4 separate regions of the Homo sapiens genome follow, and all the other regions are linked to region 4. The links come from fine-mapping of genetic effects on gene expression. A gene starts in region 4. Each other region holds a variant in brackets. All regions are shown on one strand. Distances are between the middles of the regions. Region 1 has its middle 26 kb from the start of TP53INP1. Region 2 overlaps INTS8 (integrator complex subunit 8). Region 3 overlaps INTS8 (integrator complex subunit 8). Region 4 holds the start of INTS8 (integrator complex subunit 8).

Region 1 (5,264 bases), 100 kb after region 4:
GTACATGAACCCCAGTATGCAGTAGAAGGGAACAAGGGGAGGGCTGGGGTTTGAGTCCCACTGCTTTCCATCATGGCTGCTGTAGCCCAGTGTTGTTGCAGAATGTCTGCCCAGGCATGGGTGCTTCAGGATGCCACTCCAGAGCCCTATTATACTGGACCCTCCACCCCCAGCTTGCTCCTGGAAAGCTGCACACTGCTCACAGGCTGTGTTGCCAGCCATTCTCTATGAGCATCCCGCAGCTGCCTCTCATTTAGGGTTCTGCATTCAGCTGCAGCTGAGCCTCCGAAGAAATGAAAGCCTTTAATTCCCATCCCTGCTCATAGTTTTTAGCTGCCTATTAGGACCAATCTCCACACTTAAAGCATTCACCTTCATCCTCTCCAGCTCTGGGATCACCTTGCTTAATCCTCTTCAATAAGGCTAGAACTAGCCTTAAGAAAATTTAAGAAAAAGCTCTTAAAGTCCTCTACTGGATGCCAATGAGACATACAAACAGCCTACTCACAAGTGAGAGAAACCCAACCCAAACTAGCTTAAGCAAAAAGGAATTTTATCTCACATAATAGTCCAAGGGTAGAGCTTGATCAAGATATTAAATTATGTCACTATGGCAAGTCATCTCCCCTTCTGTCCTTCTTGCACATTGGCTGTATCTCTGTCAACTTCCCCCACTTGTGGAGCAAGATAGTTGCCATAGTTCTCGAATCTTCAAGTGTTTCTTGACTGAAGTTAAGTGGGGATGAGTCTCAGCTTCTCTCGGCAGTCCCAGAAAGCCTCAGTGTATCTTACTAGCTTTGACTGGGGCATAGTCCTATCCTTGAGCTATCCTTGGCCAGGGGGAATGCATATCTGATTGGCCAGGCCTGATTCATATGCTTACTCCTGGAGCTGGGAATAGTGAATGCCATCTGAAACTAACCTCGATTCTGGAGGGAGAAATAGATCCCTAGAAGAAAATTGGGATACTGTTATCAGAAGGGAAATGGATGCAGAATGTTCACAAATACATCCCTTCTTTACTCAATGTTTTTCTTAATTACAAATAAATTCTTCTGGCCAATGCTCTATACAATGCCTTCTCTACTCTCTTCAAGATCCATAACACAGTGCTTATCAAACTTTAAAATGCAAAGAAACCATCTGGGGAATCCTACTAAAAATGCAGATTAACATCCTTCAGTAGTGTGATGATGGCTGAAATATGGGAAGAGCAGGTGTCACAGGAGCTCAAATAGGGCTTCTCACTCATTAGCCTCAATTGCCTCTGTGAAATAGGAGGCAGAAGGCCAGCAGTGGTTTAGGGCAATGGTCTCAAAGTGTATTCCCTGGAATAGTAGTGGCAGCATGACCTGGGAATTTATTAGAAACACACATTCTCAGGCTCTATCCTGGATTTACTGAGTTAGAAACTTCAGAAATGGGGTCCAGCAATCCGTGTTTTTTTGTTTTTTTCTTTTTTTTGAGACGGAGTCTCACTCTGTCACCCAGGTTGGAGTGCAGTAACATGATCTCGGCTCACTGCAACCTCCATCTCCGCCTCCCGGGTTCAAGGATTCTCCTGCCTCAGCCTCCCAAGTAGCTGGGACTACAAGCATGTGCCACCACGCCCGGCTAATTTTTTGTATTTTTTAAAGTAGAGACGAGGTTTCACCGTGTTAGCCAGGATGGTCTCGATCTCCTGACCTTGTGATCTGCCCACCTTGGCCTCCCAAAGTGCTGGAATTACAGGCATGAACCACCGAGTCCGGCCAAATCCGTGTTTCAATAAGCGCTGCAGGAAATTGTGCACACTGAAGTTGGAGAACCACTGGGTTAGGGCCTAGCTGCTCATGGCTCTTGAGCTAGCAGCATGCGTATCATGCTAGAAATGCAGAATCTCTGGCCCCATACACAACAGACCTACTGGATTAGAATCTGCAATTTTTTTTTTTTTTTTTGAGGCAGAGTCTCACTCCGTCACCCAGGCTGGAGTGCAGTGGTGTAATCTTGGCTCACTGCAACCTCCGCCTCCCGGGTTCAAGCAATTCTCCTGCCTCAGCCTCCTGAGTAGCTGGGATTACAGGTGCCCGGCACCACACCCAACTAATTTTTGTGTTTTTAATAGAGATGAGCTTTCACCACATTGGCCAGGCTGGTCTCGAACTCCTGACCTCAGGTGATCCACCCACCTCGGCCTCCCAAAGTGCTGGGACTACAGGCATGTGCCACTGCGCTGGCTGAATCTGCATTTTTAACAGGATCCCCCAGATGATTTGTTTGCATTTTAAAGTTTGATAAGCACTATGTTAGGGATCTTGAGAGTAGAGAAGGAATCGTATAGAGAATTGACCAGTTGCACACAAAAGAATTGCCAAACTGGCACTTGAGCTCGTACCC[C/A]CTCCATGTCTCATGGCCGTGATCCCCACAAGAGTCATTTTTTTTTCCAGTTGCTCTTAGGCAGCTCAAATGTAGAAGCAAGCCTTGCATTCAGATTGACTTGTAGTTGGAGGTTAGCAGAACAGGCATGTCGGAAAGAGAAACGATTGAAAGTTGACATGCGACCATGAGAATGGCCAAAATCGTGCAGATGGGAGTCTGTAGGCCGGATAGGAAGGAGGGTGGCCATGAAGAAAGGTGGTGACAACCTGAATGTTTCTGATAGCATGAAGCAGGTAAGGTGTGAGAAAAAGTTAGCAGAGTAGTGGTCCAAGATTGCTATATAGAGTCTGTGGAACTGTTAGGTCCAGAGAAAACTGTCCAACAGAACCTTTTGGATGATAGAAATGTTCTCTATCTGCACTGTCCAGTATGGTAGCTGCTAGCCACATGTGGCTGTGGAGCACTTGAAATACTACTAGTATGACTGAAGAACTGTTGGAAACATTACTAATAGTTCTAAAGGCCAAAGCTATCTATACAACTAGATGCTCAAAGAAATGTTGCTCTCTTCTCATCCCCACTAACCTATTCCACTTCCTGTCTTCTATTCCAACCCTTTTTATCCACCCTCTGTAAGTAACCACTCCTTCATTTCTGGCTTTTTCTTCCTGTATTTCTTTTGCATAATGAGCTGATAGTGGTGTGTTTTCTTATATTCCTTTCTTACATGAAGTGTAGCTTACAATAGATACTCTGAATTTTACTTTTTTTTTTTTTTTTGAGACAGAGTCTCGCTCTGTCGCCCAGTCTGGAGTGCAGTGAGGGGATCTTGGCTTACTTCAACCCCCACCTCCTGGGTTCAAGCAATTCTTCTGCCTCAGCCTCCCAAGTGGCTGGGACTACAGGTGCCCGCCACCACGCCCGACTAATTTTTTTTTTTTTCTGTATTTTTAGTATAGGCCGGGTTTCACCATGCTGGCCAGGCTGGTCTCAAACTCCTGACCTTGTGATCCACCCGCCTTGGCCTCCTAAAGTGCTGGGATTACAGGCGTGAGCCACTGCGTCCAGCCTGAATTTTGCTTTTTTTCACTTGAGTATGTTTAGAAATCAAATCAAGCAGTTCATAAAGCTCTTCCTCAGTTTTGTTTTGTTTTGTTTTTTGAGACGTAGTCTCGCTCTGTCGCCCAGGCTGGAGTGCAGTGGTACGATCTTGGCTCACTACAACCTCCGCCTCCCGGGTTCAAGCGATTCTCCTGCCTCAGCCTCCTGAGTAGCTGGGATTAACAGGGGCACGCCACCACGCCCGTCTAATTTTTGTATTTTTAGTAGAGACGGGGTTTCACTGTGTTAGCCAGGATGGTCTCTATCTCCTGACCTTGTGATCTGCCTGCCTCGGCCTCCCAAAATGCTGGGATTACAGGCATGAGCCACCGCACCCGGCCCCTTCCTCAGTTTTTAAAAAAGCTGCATTGACCTCTATTGTGGGGATGTGTTATAATATATTCAACTAATCTATGCATAGCATTTAGGTTTTTCAATTTTGCATTTACAGCAGACAGTGTTTCAATGAATAACCTTGTGGTCTGTACAAATTTACAGCAAAGGAGCAAGATAATCTTAGGCCACATATCAAACTGTGAAGCCTTGATGTGCCCATCCCCACAAGCCACCTTCATGTTTGACTGCCCACTTCTAGACTCCATACAGTCACTGCCTTGAGACCTGATCAAGCTGCTAGATTCCCTGGACACTCTGTAAGTGGGCCTAGCAACAGTCTTCTCAGCAGCAGCCATTCCCCTGCCATTCCAGAGTAGGGTTTTTGTTCTGTTTTGTTTTGTTTTTTGAGACAGAGTCTCACTCTGTTGCCCAGGCTGGAGTGCAGTGGCATGATCTTGGCTCACTGCAACCTCCACATCCTGGGTTCAAGCAATTCTCCTGCCTCAGCCTCCCGAGGAGCTGGGATTACAGGCGTGTGCCACCATGCCTGGCTCATTTTTGTATTTTTAGTAGAGATGGGGTTTTGCCATGTTGGCCAGGTTGGTCTTGAACTCCTGACCTCAGGTGACCCACTTGCCTCAACTTCCCAAAGTGCTGGCATTACAGGCACGAGCCATCATGCCCAGCCCAAAGTGGGGCTTTCATTTCAACCTGCTGCTTCTCAAGTCAACGTTCATGACCTTATTTTCATCTTTGGGTGACTCCTTCTTACCCCTGGCACCCAATCTTTTCATCTCAGCAAAGACTCAGATAATAAAAATCTGACTTTAAATAAGCTACAGTTGTAGAATGCTGATCTGCCCCAAACATTCATTCACATGGGAGTTATTCTTTGGGCTTCGTGTTCCATTATTCTGAATGTTTACTGGCCTATTGAAACTAGAGCTCCACAATAGGGGTATCAATGGCATCAGGGAAGGCCATATTGTCCTAAAACACTTCTATAAGATTCCATCTCCATTCATTTGGGAGAAGATCCATTGGGAATTCATCCACCTGGCTTCAAAAAGGCTAAAGCCAGTGTATTACATTCTATATTTTTAAACATTGATTGGAGGGAAAGGTACTGGTTGGGGATCACCATCCAATTCCTGTTCACTTAAGTGATTCCTCATTTTAGGTTAAAAAGAAATCCTTTTTTTTTTTTTTTTTTTGAGACAGAGTCTTGCTCTGTTGCCCAGGCTGCGCAGTCTCAGCTCACTGCAACCTCCGCCTCCCAGGTTCAAGGGATTCTCCTGCCTCAGCCTCCCAAGTAGCTGAAACTACAAGTGCACACCACCACGCTCAGCTTATTTTCATATTTTTAGTAGAGACAGGGTTTTGCCATGTTGGCCAGGCTGATCTCGAACTTCTGGCCTCAAGCGATGTGCCTGCCTTGGCCTTCCAAATTGCTGGGATTACAGGCA
Region 2 (5,000 bases), 43 kb after region 4:
GGTTGTTCATGTGGCCTACCAGGCTTCTTAAGGTGTGCATGCTTCTCCTCCTCCAGGTGCAGTTCCCCTGCCCCTTGGCGTTCCAGCCCTGTGCTGGCAGCACCAGCATGCCCACGCCATGTTTCCATTCTGCACCTGTGCACACGCTGTTTGTCACATTAGCCAGGATGTCCTTTCCAGCTTTGCGTGTTTGTGTGATTTCTCTGATGCTTTCCCATATTCTTTTCTCTGTAAATGAGTAAATCACTTCCTCTTCCTGCTTCCTTTGTACTGTTGTACTGATCCTGCTACTGTTGTACTGTTGACTTATTTCTTTTGTTGTGTTTATGCTGAATAGTAAGTTATATATCCACTTGTCTTCTCTATAAGACAATGAACTGCTTCAGGGCAGTTAATTTTTATGTTGTGCTTTCCATGATGCCCACCACACATAGTAGGTGCTCAAGAATGTTTGTGGAATTCAATTGATTTGAGGCCTTAGACTTTGAAAATTTTTTAAATTAAATTTATGTAATAAATTCAGTGACCTTAAAGCATATGATCCCTGACAACAGAAGATGAATTTGAGCTAAGAGCTACAGTAGCCCTGGCATTACACTGCAGTGAATAGCTGCATGTATTGTGATTCCATTTGTCAGAGAAGAGTATTTTAGGTAAGCTTGCAGGATGAAATATCCTGCTAGGCCATTGGTCCATGTCTATTCACCTAGTATAGGCAGGGTTTTTATGTTATTCTCACGAGCTTCGGAAAGCCACAGTACTCTTGTTAATTTTCTTAGGCATGATCACAGAGTTGTGGTTATGGAGAAGAATGTCCTCGTCCTTAGAAGATGTATGTGGAAGTATTTAGGGATGAAATATTGTGTCTAACTTAGTTTAATATGGTTTAACAAAAAAATTTATGTAGATATATAAAGCAAACATGGCAGAATAGTCACAATGTGTCAGGTATTTATTGAACTTTTTTTTTTATTTTTCTGTTTGAAATTTTTCATAACAAAAAAATGTAGAGAAAAACCACCAATTTTTGTCCTTGTCACAATCTTGCCACCTCCTTAAAAAAGCCGCCTTAAGCAGTAGGGACCCCTAGGTCCATTTTAAGTAGAAACCAGGGGTTCCTGATGGATTTGAAATTATCCTTGCTACTGCACCCTCTACAAGAGCGATGGAGTATAAAAGTTAATATGAACAAGGGTAAAGGGGCCCAGTTCTGAATTTGGCCAGATGCTGTGGCTCAAGCCTGTAATCTCAGCACTTTGGGAGGCCGAGGCGGATAGATCACTTGAGGCCAGGAGTTCGAGACCAGCCTGGCCAACATGGTGAAACCCCGTCTCTACTAAAAATACAGAAATTAGCCGGGCATGGTGACACATGCCTGTAATTCCAGCTACTCAGGAGGCTGAGGCACAAAAATCGTTTGAGCCTGGGAGGCGGAGGTTGCAGTGAGCCAAGATTATACCACTGCATTCCAGCCTGGGTGCAGAGCAAGACCCTGCCTCCAAAAAGAAAAGAAAATAAAAGAAATTCTGAATTTATTGTAAGTCAATCTTTCCCTGTCTTTTGCTTTTAGCTTTCCCACTCTTTATTTCTGGGTCCTCCCTACATCCTAGGTCATTGAGGCTGCCTTTATTCATACCAGTCACTTTGTGTAACCTGTCCTGCCTTAATTCTACCTCCTCAGAAGAGCAGTAGCTCCATTCCCAGTTGCTACCAATTTTCTTAGAGAAAAATTGCTTTAAATCTATATCCCTTAATTCTGCCAACTTCAGTTTCCTTATTCCTTTCCTTATTTTTTTCGTTGAAACAATTTTTTTTTTTAGTGATTAAAAGTTGTATGTGTGTGTATTTGCACGTGGGAGAGAGAGAGATCTGAGCACTATTTTAACCTCACCCCCTGGGCTTTTACCACAGTTAACATCTTGGTGTATGCCTTCCATTACACTTTTTTTTCCCTATGTAACGTGGGATCATACTATGTGTATTTAGCAACTCGTTTTTTTTTCCACTTAATAAATCACCTATCTCTTTGCGTTGTCTCATTTTCGTTTTCATTAGACTATAACTGTTCAGAAACAAAGTTCGTATGCTCGAACCAGAGGATCTTTCTCAGATTCAGATCTGTCAGTACGCAATGAGCCCTAAATTCCTCAAAGGTTGTACAGAATGCACAGCATAAAATAACTGTGCTTAGTATGTTTGGGCAGTCATTCCATCTTTCCTCCAGTGTGCCTTGATAATAGAACTAATGTGCACGACATTACAGATTATCTTTTGTGTATTTTGTTTTTCATGTTATAGCTTGGACAGCTTTTAGCAGCTACATGCAAAGAACTTCCAGGCCCTAAAGAAAG[T/C]AGACGGACTGCCAAAGACCTTTGGGAAGTTGTTGTTCAAATCTGTAGTGTGTCCAGTCAGCACAAACGAGGAAATGATGGCAGAGTTAGTTTAATAAAACAGAGGGAATCTACGTTAGGTATCATGTATCGGTATGTATTGGTACGTTTCTATTAGTTGTGTTTGAGTTCTTAATATTTATCCTATTTATACTATTAACCTATTAAAGGTTGATTTCAAGAACATCAGCTTTTATTCTGTATATCATAAAGTTGGACAATCTTACGAGTTCTGTAGTACTCACCTGTGATGAACCTGTCTGCCTTGGCCACCTTTGGAAAGATCTTTTGTTTATATGTCATTTTAAGAAACTATTAATCATTTAATCAACTGGAATTCAAAATCAGTAGTATTTAAGGTTGGATAGTATTGAAGACTTCACATGTGATTAAAACAGGGAAGAAATGTTATTAGGTTAGTATAACAGTAGAATATTACATTCCTTTTCACACTTGCAGAATTGGAGCATTAAGAATAAACCTTCACCTATAATTTACTTTCTTGATTTTATTTTTTATTTCTAATATTAAATGTGTATTCAAAAATTTTTGTTTTGTAGGAGTGAACTGCTTTCTTTTATCAAAAAATTACGAGTAAGTTTTATTAAAAATTGCTCTAATTACTATTGCTGGTTTTTGTAGAATATGACTAAAAATTATTGGGTACTTCAAATACTGACTAAATTATTATTTGTTTTTTAATTTTTTTTTAAGGGACAGGGTCTTGATCTGTCACCCAAGCTGGAGTGCTGAGGTGTGATTGTAACTCACTGCGTCTTCTAATTCTTGAGGTTAAGCAGTCCTCCTGCCTCAGCTTTCTGAGGAACTGGGACTACAGGCACATGTAACCATGCCCAGCTAATTTTTTGTAGAGATGAGGTCTCCCCTTGTTGCCCAGGCTAGTTTCTAACTCCTGGTCTCAAATTATCATCCCTTCTTGGCCCCTCACAGTGCTGGGATTACAGGTGTTAGCCACCTTGCCTGGCCTCTGGTTAAATTATTAAAGTGACCTGTTAATGTGCTTTTCTTCAGTGATCATTATTGGTGGGTGGGATATTCTGACTGGAAAAGTTTGTATTGCATTTACTTTACCATGTTTTAGTGAACGGAGCAGGTATTTCTTTAAATTGTAAAGAAGTCTTCATAATAGGGGCTAGATGTGTGAAGCCTGGCTTTAATTTTTGCTTAGTAGGATCAATGTCATATTTACTTATTGGACGTAACCTAGGTTTCACTCTTTGAACATTATTTTAAGGGATAAAAAGTTACTTGAGAGTCATGTGAGGAGTTGAGCGTGGAGATAGCACCATAAGCCAAACATTTATGCTAATTTTATGTAAATTATGTGCTATGGTCCACGCCCCGCCCCCACATGCGATTAAAAAGTTGATTTTTAGTGTGCTAAAGCACATGCTAAAACAGATGCTACATTTTCAAAAGGCAAGGGTCTTTTAGAATGCTTGATGTCTGTGAGGTTGACAGGAGCAATATTAAATAAATATACATACACTGTTTAAGGATTCTGTGTTTTCTTTCTCATAGGAACCACTCGTTTTGACTATTATTTTATCACTCTTTGTGAAACTTCACAATGTTCGGGTAAGTATTTCATAATTTCATTTAGAAAAATTTAAAAGAAATTTCTTTGTAAATCACACCTTTTTTTTTCTTTTTAAAGGAGGACATTGTGAATGATATTACAGCTGAACACATTTCTATTTGGCCATCTTCCATTCCCAAGTAAGTAGTGGTATAGCTTTTATTTTATTAATTGAGTTATGTATTTGGAAACCATTCTGACTAGTATAGATACCCTTAGATAATTTTATTAAAGGGCCAGAAATCTAAGATTCTACAGTCTTTGTGTTTCTCTATTATGATAATGATAATTATCTTCCTGTAAATTGTGGATAAGGCATAACCCTTTTTTTTTTTTTTTTTTTTGAGGCAGAGTCTCACTCTGTTGCCCAGGCTGGAATGCAGTGGTACAATCTCTGCTCACTGCAATCTCTGCCTCTTGGGCTCAAGCAATTCTCATGCCTCAGCCTCCCAAATAGCTGGGATTACAGGCACCCACCACCACGCCTGGCTAATTTTTGTATTTTTAGTAGACACATGGTTTTGCCATGTTGGCCAGGCTGGTCTCAAACTCCTGACCTCAAGTGATCTGCCCACCTCAGCCTCCCAAAGTGCTGGGATTACAGGCAGGAGCTACCACACCTGGCCCAGCATAACTCTTAAGTAGGAGTTAAGATTTATCAGCCTTGGAACAGAAGATATAAGTGGTCCTGATTTTCAGTAGAATTGGAAAATTGGGGCCAATGAAAGAATGACTTTCTATCAGGTTTCCAGCATCTTATTTCTTTTACAAGTATCTATTTGAAAGTGATTTCTTTTTTCATAATTTTTTGTATGTCTCATCTAATGCTGCAGTTATCAAAAGGCTCCCAATCTCTTTTAGTTGCTGTAGGAACTAAACTAAACTTCTTTAATTACTTTGAGAAATATTCCCTTTTGCATGCACTACCTGAGAATCACAGTAAGATGATGGGGACTTTTTTTAGGGGAGGAAAAAGGGTTCATTTACTTGAAGAAATCATGTACATTTTT
Region 3 (5,000 bases), 53 kb after region 4:
GTTCTGACTTCTTTAACAAGGCTGTGCCCCCTGATGTTTATACAGACCAGGTGAATTGTTTTCGTGGGCTGGCTGGTTTCTTGCCTACCTGTATATGTTCTTCCTGGGTCCCCTTTTGGCTGAACTTACCCATTTCCTTGTAATGTGATCGTAAGTCCCAGGTTCATGGCTCTAGAACACATTGCTCTGTGTATTTTCATTGTCCTTATTTCTAGCACCTATTGCTGTCTTGATTCCCCCAAAACACCTCAAATTCAACTTGTCCAAACTGATTTGTGTCTGTCTTTACCATAAAGTAATAAACTCCTAATACACTCCTAATAAATTCACCTGTCCTTTCAAAAACAAAAACAAAAAACCTGCAAAATACCAAACATTTTTGTTTAACCATTTGAGTAGTTCAAGCCCAAACCCTGACTATCATTTTTGGCTTTTTTCTTTACTGACCCTCCTGCCACCATCCAGTTAGCTCTCACATCTTGTGGATTCTATCTCCTAAATCCCTATTTTTTTTTCCTAATTTCTTTGGTATATATTTAAGATATACAGAATAATGTTTTAATATACACAGTGAGATGATTACTACAGTCAAACAAAAAAACATATCCATTGCCTTCCTTAGTTACCCATTTTTTGTGATAAGAGCACCTAAAATCTACTCTCAGCAATTTTTTAGTATACATTATGGTATAATGAATTCTAGTCCTCATACTGTATATCAGTTTGCTAGACTTTTTCTATCTAATTGCAAATTTGTGCCATTTGACCTACTTCTTCCCATTTCCTCCCCATTCCTGCACCTGGTGTCAAATTTTGTCCGTTTTTTTTTTTGATATGCATTGCCATTTCCTCTGATGTAGGCTACCAGTACCATAACTTAAATGATATTTTAAAAATACTTATAATGGCTTTCAAAATAAGATTGAACATTTATTAGATTTTTGGTTTATTTTTTACAGCACTTTTAAGTTCACAGCAAAATTGAATAAAAGGTACAGAGTTCCCATATATCCCCCGTTCCTCCACACACAGCTTCCTCTTTTGACATCCCATACCAGAGTGACACATTTGTTAGAATCCATGTTAGCTGGTTTTTGAAAATAATGAGAATTTTGCTTTTGTAGGTAATAAAACGAATGATAAAATGTTGTTCTTTGCTGAATTGCCACACACAGGTTAGTTTATAATATTATGAAGTTGTTTTATTTTTACATATGTTAGAGTTTATAATAAATATAAAGCATTGAACTGGAAATTAGCTTTTATTTTCCATATCAAAATCACTTAGGGTATGTAAGAGTTTGGCATATTCTTTAAATTTTTTTAAATAGTTTATAGAATGTCAACTAAAATGAAAGTATGAATTAAAAACATTGACCTTTAAACCTCCTAAGTGGGAAAAAAGCATTTTTCAGGTTTTTAAAGATACTTTAGAAATGTGCATTAGTCATTAGGGAAATGCAAATCAAAACCATGAGATACCACTTCCTACCCACTGGGATGGCTGTAATCTAAACACATTTAAAAACAAATGTTGGTGAGGATGTGGGGAAATTGGCACCCTCATATGTTGCTGGTGGGAATATAAAATGGTGTAGCATCAAAATGGTGTAGACTCAGGAAAACAGTTTCCCAGTTCCTCAAAAAGGTAAACATAAGAATTACTATATGACCCAGCAGTTTCACTCCTAGGTGTATACCCAAGACAACTGAAAACATATGTCCACAGAAAAAATTGTGCACAAGTGTTCACAGCAGCATCATTCATAATAGCCAAAAAGTAGAAACAACCCTAATGCCCATCAAATGATGAATGACTGAACATAATGCAGCATATCTATGCAATGAAATATTATTCAGCCATAGAAAGGAATGAGTTACTGTTACGTGGTACAGCATGGCTGAACCTTGAAAGATTATGCTAAGTGAAAGAAGCTAGACACAAAAGGCTACATAGTCTATGATTCCATTCATATGAAATGTTCAGAGTAGGCAAATGTATGGAGACAAAGTAAATTAGTGGTTATCAGAGGCTTGAGGTGAGAGGGAATGGAGAGTGACTGCTAATGGACTTTTTTGGGGGAAGTAATGAAAATGTTTTTAAATTACATAGTGGTGATGGTTGTACAACTTGGTGAATATACTAAAAACCACCAGATTGGGTACTTTAAGAGGGTAACTTTTATGGTTTCTGAATTAAATTAATAAAAACTATTTTTTAAAGAGATGGACATTATGACCTGAGTGAAATGTTTTCTATGTTAAGCAGATTGGCAGCCTAAATTTTCCAAAATGAGCGTCTATACTTGCCAGCTATGAAAGGTTTAATTGCACACTCTGTATGTCCTTGAATGTCATGACACTTTTGCTTGGCAGTTTTCCATCCCCTTCAGTTTTCTGAACTGGCTTTTTGCCAGCTTCTCATTCAAACAAACCTCTAAAATTTGTGGTTGAGGTCACTGATGAAGAGAATATTGGTCAGACAGACACGTGTATAAAGGTTTTTGAAATTAAAATTGGATGGAATCCATAACTATGAGCGGATTCAATGTGATCTATAAGGCTTAATATAAGAGTAATTCAAGATTACCTTGTAAAACCAAGCTTTCATTACATGAAACCATTTTCAAATCTTTGTTAATGTAGGTGGC[C/T]ATTTTATGTCAGTTCCTCAGAGAAATTGACTACAAAACAGCGTTTAAATCTCTGCAAGAACAAAACAGGTATGAATAATATTTTAAAAATAATGAGGTCAACATTTTTCTGCTTAAGAAGTAACTGAATTCTGTCTTTCAGTCATGATGCTATGGACTCCTACTACGACTACATATGGGATGTTACCATTTTGGAATACTTGACTTGTATCCTTTCATCCATGTGTGTGATGTTAGAATGATCCATTTTTATAAATTAAAGGAATATTTAATATTGTATATTTTCCAAATCAAAACTGAAAATGAGTTGAGATTCTCTCATTATATTTAATACTATCAGATTTATTTTCCTTAACTGATTCATTAGATCTTCATCATAAAAGAGGAGAAACAGATAAAAGACAAATTGCAGTAAGTTACCTTATGCCTTTCTTCAGTGGTACAGTTTCCAGAATATTAAACAATTGTTAAGATGTGAACCAACAAAAAATAGATTTTGTGTACCTAGTTACTGCCAGAATTTTATTATCAGTGTTTACTTTATAAAAGATCCTTTTTTGATAATTTTAACTGTTCCATGTCATTATATATTATTTTAAAATGTTAGATCATGTCATTTCTCAGTCCCAAACTTTCCAATGGCTTCTCATCTCATACAAAGTTAAAAGTCTTACGATGGCTTTATAAGGCTATATACAACTTGACCTCTAGCCTGTCCGTCTGACTTTTCCTCCTTGCTAATTTCTGCTACACCAGTACCCCTCCTGTTCTTTCAACAAGCCAAGAACATTCACCACCTAAGAAGGGGCTTTGAAATTTTCTCTTCCAAGAACATCCAACTTCCCTCAGATCTCTCGTCAATCATCCTTTCCTGATCATCTTATAAAGTAACAATTTCTGCTTCCCTTTTCCCTCCAGTACTCTTACTCTCATTTCTTTTTACATTTTTCTCCGGAACACTTATCAACATCTAACATACTGTATATTTTCCTAATATCTATTTCCCCAGGAGGGTAAGGACTTGTTTTGTCATAGTTGGTCCCTAGAATGGTGCCTGGCACATATTAGGTGCCCCAGAATCACTGATTAGATGAACTCTTTATCTAAATTTGATGTATGGGCCAAAACATTTTAAATTGTATGGCCATATTTACTTGTCTAACATTTACTGTGGCAGTATCACCACAGATCTTTTCTTTGCTCTTTCACTTATATTAATTTAAAAAAATGCTATTTATTAAGGGTCTTTTAAACTTTGTACTCGGACTAAAATATATGCCCATTGTTTAGAAGAAACAATAATAACAGCACTTAAAAACAAAAAGGAAAAAGAATGTGAAGGCCAGTTCCACTTGATTGGAGGCAATTCATTCTCCCTTTTCTAATTTACCTGGGGCTGGAAGGCAATATTGAAAAATTTTCCTAGCTCCTTTTTGCTATTTCCAAACCACTTCTACTTGTATCATTTTTTGAGACCCTTATGCTTCATACCTTACTTCCTTACTAGCTCCTGTAAGTATCTGGTTGTTCCTCTACATGTGTCAAAAGACGTGAGGAATTTACCTGTCACCCTGAGCTTTACAAGTCCTTGCCAGCCTCACATCTATGAGGTGTTATTTTTACTCTGTACCAGCCACTCACACCCAAAGCCATGTCTTACTGTCAGGCACAATTGTTCTGTTAGATCTTATACTGCAACCCACTCTCTGCCCATAACCTATCCTTCTCTTACTTCCTTGCTCCTGAGCCCCTCACGATCAGTGGGATATTGAGTTTTGTGACATTTTTTTCCCAGTCATTCCCTTCCATCTTCCCTTCTCTGCTCATCTCAAATACAACAAATACTATTCTGCACACTGAGAGGTACCGATTCAGTTGGTCTGAAGTGGGACCCTGGAATCCAGTTTTTAAGTTTCCCGGGTAGTCTGGTGATGAACCAGGTGTGGGAACCCCTGCTATGATAGAACTACTCTTGATCAATATTTTTAGCGTCTTCCCTTTATCCTTTACCTCACCTGGGAAAGCCCTAGCCCTGCATAAGTCCAGAAACTTACGTGTTTTATTTTCTTGGGCCACTGAGACTATTGGAAAAAGTCCTACGACTGGTGCCACTGCCAAACAAGTCTCCAACCCGTCAGCTTTTTTGTTTTACCTGCCACTAGTTCAGTGGTCCACATTCTCTTCGTGGACTCTAATTTTTAGACTTTCCTGTTTAAGCCCCTGTCCTCTCTCTACCTTTTCCATACTCAGTAACTTCTTTACCTCTTCTATGCTTGAGATATACCAGTGAAGACTGGCCAGGCTCTGTCCTCATGGATGTTAAGAGTCTTGGGAATGGTGACCTTGTGA
Region 4 (5,258 bases):
TACATTTGACATGTATGGAGGTTCTAATTTCATATCATCACCAATACTTATTTTTGTCTTTTTGATCATAGCCATTTTAGTGGGTGTGAAGTGGTATTTCACACAGTTTTGTTTTGCTTTATTTATTTATGTATTTATTTGAGACAAAGTCTCGCTCTGTCACCCAGCCCAGAGTGCAGTGGCATAATCATAGCTCACTGCAGCCTGCTTCCCAGGCTCAAGCCATCCTCCCACCTCAGTCTCCCAGGGTAGCTGGGACCACAGGCATGTATCGCCATGCCTGGCTAATTTTTGTGTTTTTTGTAGAGATGGGGTCTCACGTTGTTGCCCAGGCTAGTGATTTGCGTTTCTTTTCTTTTCTTTCCTTTTTTTTTTTTTTTTTGAGACAGTCTCACTCTGTCACCCAGGCTGGAGTGCAGTGGCATGATCTCAGCTCATTGCAACCTCCACCTCCTGGGTTCAAGTGATTCTCTGTCTCAGCCTCCCGAGTAGCTGGGATTACAGACGCATCACCACCATGCCCGGCTAATTTTTGTATTTTTAGTAAAGACAGGGTTTCACCATCTTGGCCAGGCTGGTCTTGAACTCCTGACCTTGTGATCCACCCACCTCGGCCTCCTAAAGTGATGAAATCACAGGCGTGAGCCACCGCACCTGGCCGATGATTTGTGTTTCTTTAACGACTAATGATATTGAGCATTTTCATGTGCATATTGCCCATTTGTAATATCTTCTTTGGAGAATGATCAATTCAAATCCTTTTTTTTTTTTTTTTTTTTTTGTTTTGAGATGGAGTCTCGCTCTGTCGGAGTCTCGCTCTGTTGCCTAGGCTGGAGTGCAGTGGCACAATCTCAGCTTACTGCAACCTCTGCCTCGTGGGTTCAAGCAATTCTCCTGCCTCAGCCTCTCAAGTAGCTGGGATTACAGGTGCCCGCCACCATGCCAGGCTAATTTTTGTATTTTTAGTAGAGATGAGGTTTCACCATGTTGGCCAGGCTGGTCTTGAACTCCTGACCTCAGGTGATCCACCCACCTCGGCCTCCCAAAGTGCTGGGATTACAGGCGTGAGCCACCGTGCCTGGCCAATTCAAATCCTTTACTCACTGTGTTGTTGCTGGGTTGTAAGAGTTCTTTACATATTCTAGATGTAAGTCCCTTATCAGACACATGATTTGCAAATATTTTCTTCTAGTCTTTGGGTTGTCATTCCACTTTCCTGATGGTATCTTTCCAAGTGTATTATTTTTTAAATCAAAATTTTAAATATTTCTTTTGCCTCTGTTGTTTCTGAGAGCCGAAGACATAGCAAGTTGAAGAAGCCTTGGCTTTTTGACATTCTGGGACACCTTTCAAGAACACTGAACCCACACCAGGATTGTCACACACTGACAGGGAAAGATGTGTCACTCCAGACCCAGGCAAGCAAACTTGGCCACAGCTGGGATATGTGTCTTGCATCAAAGCAGAAGCAACTGGTAGTTTTGAGGGTCTTCTGACAGACACCCTCCAAACATACTGCTCAGAAGTGAGGTAGGAGGTGAGATGCGACTCTGGAGTCAGGGTTTGGACACCGGACCAAATTCAGGGATGGGGCTGAAGCAGCTTTCCATGAGACATGCTCAACAGTGTGCCATGTCGGTTTACCATTGCCATGGCAACACCTGGGCATTGCCACCCCATTCTATGGTAATGACCCGATGACCCAGAAGTTACTACCTTTTTCCTAGAAATTTCTGCATAAACTTCCCCTTAATCTGCATGCAATTAAAAGTGGGTGTAAATATGCCTGCAGAACCTCCCTGAGCTGGTATTCTCAGCGCACTGCCTGTGGGTTAGCCCTGCTCTGCAGGGGCAGTCACAGAGCTGTAACACTGCCACTTCAGTAAAGCTGTTCTCTTCTACCACTGGTTCACACTTGAATTCTTTCCTGGACAAAGCAAAGAACTCTCTGGGGTGAAGTTCCAATTTGGGGTCACCTGCCCTGCATTAGAGGGACAAGAGTCCCTGGCTGGAAGCTTGAGTTCATTAGACTCCTCCAATGTTGATGAAGTCTTAAGTTATGACTCCCTCTAAGAGATGGTCTCTAAGTTTAATAAACTTCAAGATCTCTGTCAACCTTCAAGTATTCAATTACCCACTCTGAAAAGGGGAGTTCAGTGCTGTAACACTTTTATGGCAAGACATTTTTGAGTCTAAATAAAACACCTTGGGACTTGAAATATATAATGTTGTTATTGTATTAGATGGTAGTGGAATAATGAACTCTTCCTTAATTAAAACTTATTTTTACATATGTAATACAAATGTCAAAATGTCAAGTTAATCTGTACTGATTTCCTTTTTTTTCTTTCTTTTTTTTTTTCTCGTTGTGAGACAGGGTCTCACTCTGTTGCCCAGGCTGGAGTGTAGCGGCACAATCACAGCTCACTGCAACCTCAATCTCTTAGGCTTAGGTGATCCTCCCGCCTCAGCTTCCTGAGTAGCTGGGACCACAGGTGTGTGTCACCATACCCGGCTACTTAAAAAAAATTTTTTTTTGAGACAGAGTTTCGCTCTGTTGCCCAGGCTGGAGTGCAATGGAGCGATCTCGGTTCACTGCAACCTCCGCCTCGCGGGTTCAAGCGATTCTCCTGCCACAGCCTCCTGAGCAGCTGGGATTACAGGCGTCCGCCACCAAGCCCGGCTAATTTTTGTATTTTTAGTAGAGACGGGGTTTCATCATATTGGTCAGGCTGGCCTTGTATTCACGATCTATGAATGCATCTTTTTTCAGTTTTAATCGTTAATGAAAAATACAAGAACATCACAGAACGGAGGTAAATGTATAGGGTTAACAGCGCCTCTAGCGGGGATATCGAAAGGATCAACTAGGCTCTAAGTATCGGGAGCTAGCAGCAAGGGCTGCTCACCGTATGCTGCCATCCGTCCAGGAAGCGAGTGGGAAGCTGGTGTTCTCGGCAGGACGGCGGGAGCATCTGAGGAGAGGACCCAGGTGCGAGGAAATCTCAGAAATGGGAACGGGGAAATTGAAAGCACAGGAGATAAACTTTGCTTGGGTCACAACTAGAACCCTTCGCTTCGCCTTTACGAAAATATTGAGGCCCGTTGCAACCCTAGATGAGGTTGTCTCATTTTCTCGCTGGAGAACTGTCAGGGAACACGGAAAACCCACCCGCGACCCGGCTTCATGCGGCGCCGTCTCCTATGGCAACCGGGAGGAGGCGTGGTTCGAAGGTTAGTCACGCCCCTTTCCTTCCAACCCGAACAACGATTGGTCCGAAGGCGCGGCGGTGGCGCGGGGAGGCGGATCCAGGACCGCAGCTCCGGCTGGCCCGCGCCGCCATTTTGGATTGTGTGAGTTTCCGGGACGTTCGGAGGGTGGCCTCTCTCCCACCGGGTTCCGCATACCCCAGGCACCGGCCCGCATCCAAGTGTCAGGTTGGAGCCGGGAAGCGGCCCTGGTGGTAGCGGCGGCGGGGGCAGGATGAGCGCGGAGGCGGCGGACCGGGAGGCGGCCACCTCCAGCCGGCCCTGCACCCCGCCGCAGACCTGCTGGTTTGAGTTTCTGCTGGAGGAGTCACTGTTGGAGAAACATCTGCGCAAGCCCTGCCCGGGTGAGCGCGGCGCCTGCACCTGGGGAGCGGGACCCGGCCACCGGCGCTGTCCGCCCAGCTTCCCTCCGCTCCCCGCCTTCTCGGTCACCGAAGCTGCGGCCTGGGAGGCGCGCACAGGAGCCCAGCTCCGGCCGGGCTCCTCGCTTCCCTTAAACATGCCCGGGTGGAGGGTCAAAGAAAAGCTCGAAACAAAGGCTCTCCTACCCCCGGAGGGGAGGGCTTGGTGCTGTCATCCTAAACCCTTTGGTCCTTTTTACGATTTACCTTTTTACTGTTGGGGTTTTAGAGGCTGCGAGGCGGGTCTTGTGGTTGCTTGGGTCGGGGAGGCTGACCAGACGCCTCCTTCAACCCCAAGCTGAATAAATTCAGGGAGCTGGGGAGAAACCAGCTGTTGGGTGTTGATCGTGACGCTAGTTATTATCTTAGGTTTTATTTAAACATTTTTTTCTTCAGTGAGGGAATTTTATTGACTCTTATTCCAAAGTTGGGCTGTAAGTTAAAAGAAAATCTTTGAAAGTAGGAACTGCTGCACATTTGCAAGATGGCTTTGTATAGTGATGATAATGATTAATAGCCCAGTTAAATGGGTGTGATTGATGGGGGAGGAGGAAAACTCCAGGCATTCTCAAAAAAGGTATTGGCACAAAAAGGTAAGTTCCTCGGATAGCATTTCTCTAAATTCAAATCTAGATATGGCTTGTTCAGTCTCAGACTGGCCTTCACTGATAGAGACCACTGTGTAAGAAGTTAGTGTACTTAGGCAGTTTTGGCACCTGTATAATGCCCTTAATTCATTCCTTTTGAAAGATAATTTGTTGAGTGCTTTCCGGGTGCCATGCACTGTGCTTAATTGCTCACATCCGTTACCTCCTTTAATTTAATCTTCAAAATGATCCTCTATTTTGCATTGGAAGAAGCAGGTACGGAGAGGTCACTTGATGGAGGTCCCCCTAATTAAGTGTCAAAATAATAGTTCTAATATTTATATCTCATTCTTCTAATTGGCAGTGGTTATTTGCAGAACCAGAAATCTATGACTGTTATGTTCTTCCCCGTAAGGTGCTTTTTTTTGCTTTCTTCCACTCTAATCTGTTACCCTTCCTCCTTACCACTCTTCCGCATCTCCTTTAACCCCCAGGCACACTTCTTACATACGTATTCCTTAGTCATTTTAACAGCGCAGCTGTTTGGATTCCTTTTGTGGCAAAAAAAAAACCCAAACTCCCCCCCCCCCCACCCACCCCCCCAAAAAAACCAAACCAATAGTGAATCCTTTTGTATCTACATAATTAAAACTTAAATTTAAGAATTTATTTTCTTTTAAACCCTAGATCCTGCACCAGTTCAACTTATAGTTCAGTTTTTGGAACAGGCTTCCAAACCTTCAGTTAATGAACAAAACCAAGTTCAACCTCCGCCTGATAACAAGAGAAATCGTATTTTAAAACTACTTGCTCTTAAAGTTGCTGCACATTTGAAGTGGGACTTAGACATATTAGAGAAAAGGTATCCAAGATTTCAGTGAAATTTCATTTGAAGTGCTATTTAGATATCTTGGTTTATTTCTATATATGCTTTTATGATATCGGCTCTTAAAAATTACGTGCTGGGCGCCGTGGCTCACGCCTATAATAATCCCGGCAC

Evidence for each region. PIP is the estimated chance that this variant, and not a neighbour inherited with it, causes the effect. A credible set is the group of variants that fine-mapping cannot tell apart.
Region 1: its variant is the best candidate, but not a certain one, in a credible set for the expression of INTS8 in tibial artery (GTEx, PIP 0.56).
Region 2: its variant is the best candidate, but not a certain one, in a credible set for the expression of INTS8 in whole blood (TOPMed, PIP 0.83).
Region 3: its variant is the best candidate, but not a certain one, in a credible set for the expression of INTS8 in esophagus muscle (GTEx, PIP 0.73).

The regions. Positions count from the first base shown.
Region 1 is chr8:94,920,557-94,925,820 of GRCh38, forward strand. It overlaps a transcript of NDUFAF6 not described here. Among named protein-coding and RNA genes, the nearest start is that of TP53INP1, 26 kb to the right of the region's middle. The variant C/A (reference allele first, on the strand shown) is at 2,380.
Region 2 is chr8:94,863,208-94,868,207 of GRCh38, forward strand. INTS8 (integrator complex subunit 8) reads left to right here. Exons shown (of 27, transcript NM_017864.4): 17 at 2,299-2,483; 18 at 2,951-2,984; 19 at 3,933-3,989; 20 at 4,069-4,130. Among named protein-coding and RNA genes, the nearest start is that of CCNE2, 29 kb to the right of the region's middle. The variant T/C (reference allele first, on the strand shown) is at 2,352.
Region 3 is chr8:94,873,428-94,878,427 of GRCh38, forward strand. INTS8 (integrator complex subunit 8) reads left to right here. Exons shown (of 27, transcript NM_017864.4): 22 at 1-50; 23 at 1,125-1,175; 24 at 2,647-2,720; 25 at 2,794-2,858; 26 at 3,019-3,062. Among named protein-coding and RNA genes, the nearest start is that of CCNE2, 19 kb to the right of the region's middle. The variant C/T (reference allele first, on the strand shown) is at 2,652.
Region 4 is chr8:94,819,948-94,825,205 of GRCh38, forward strand. It overlaps INTS8 (integrator complex subunit 8), which reads left to right and starts at 3,340. Exons shown (of 27, transcript NM_017864.4): 1 at 3,340-3,614; 2 at 4,946-5,120. The coding sequence starts at 3,485. RefSeq lists a silencer at 3,377-3,766 and an enhancer at 3,927-3,986.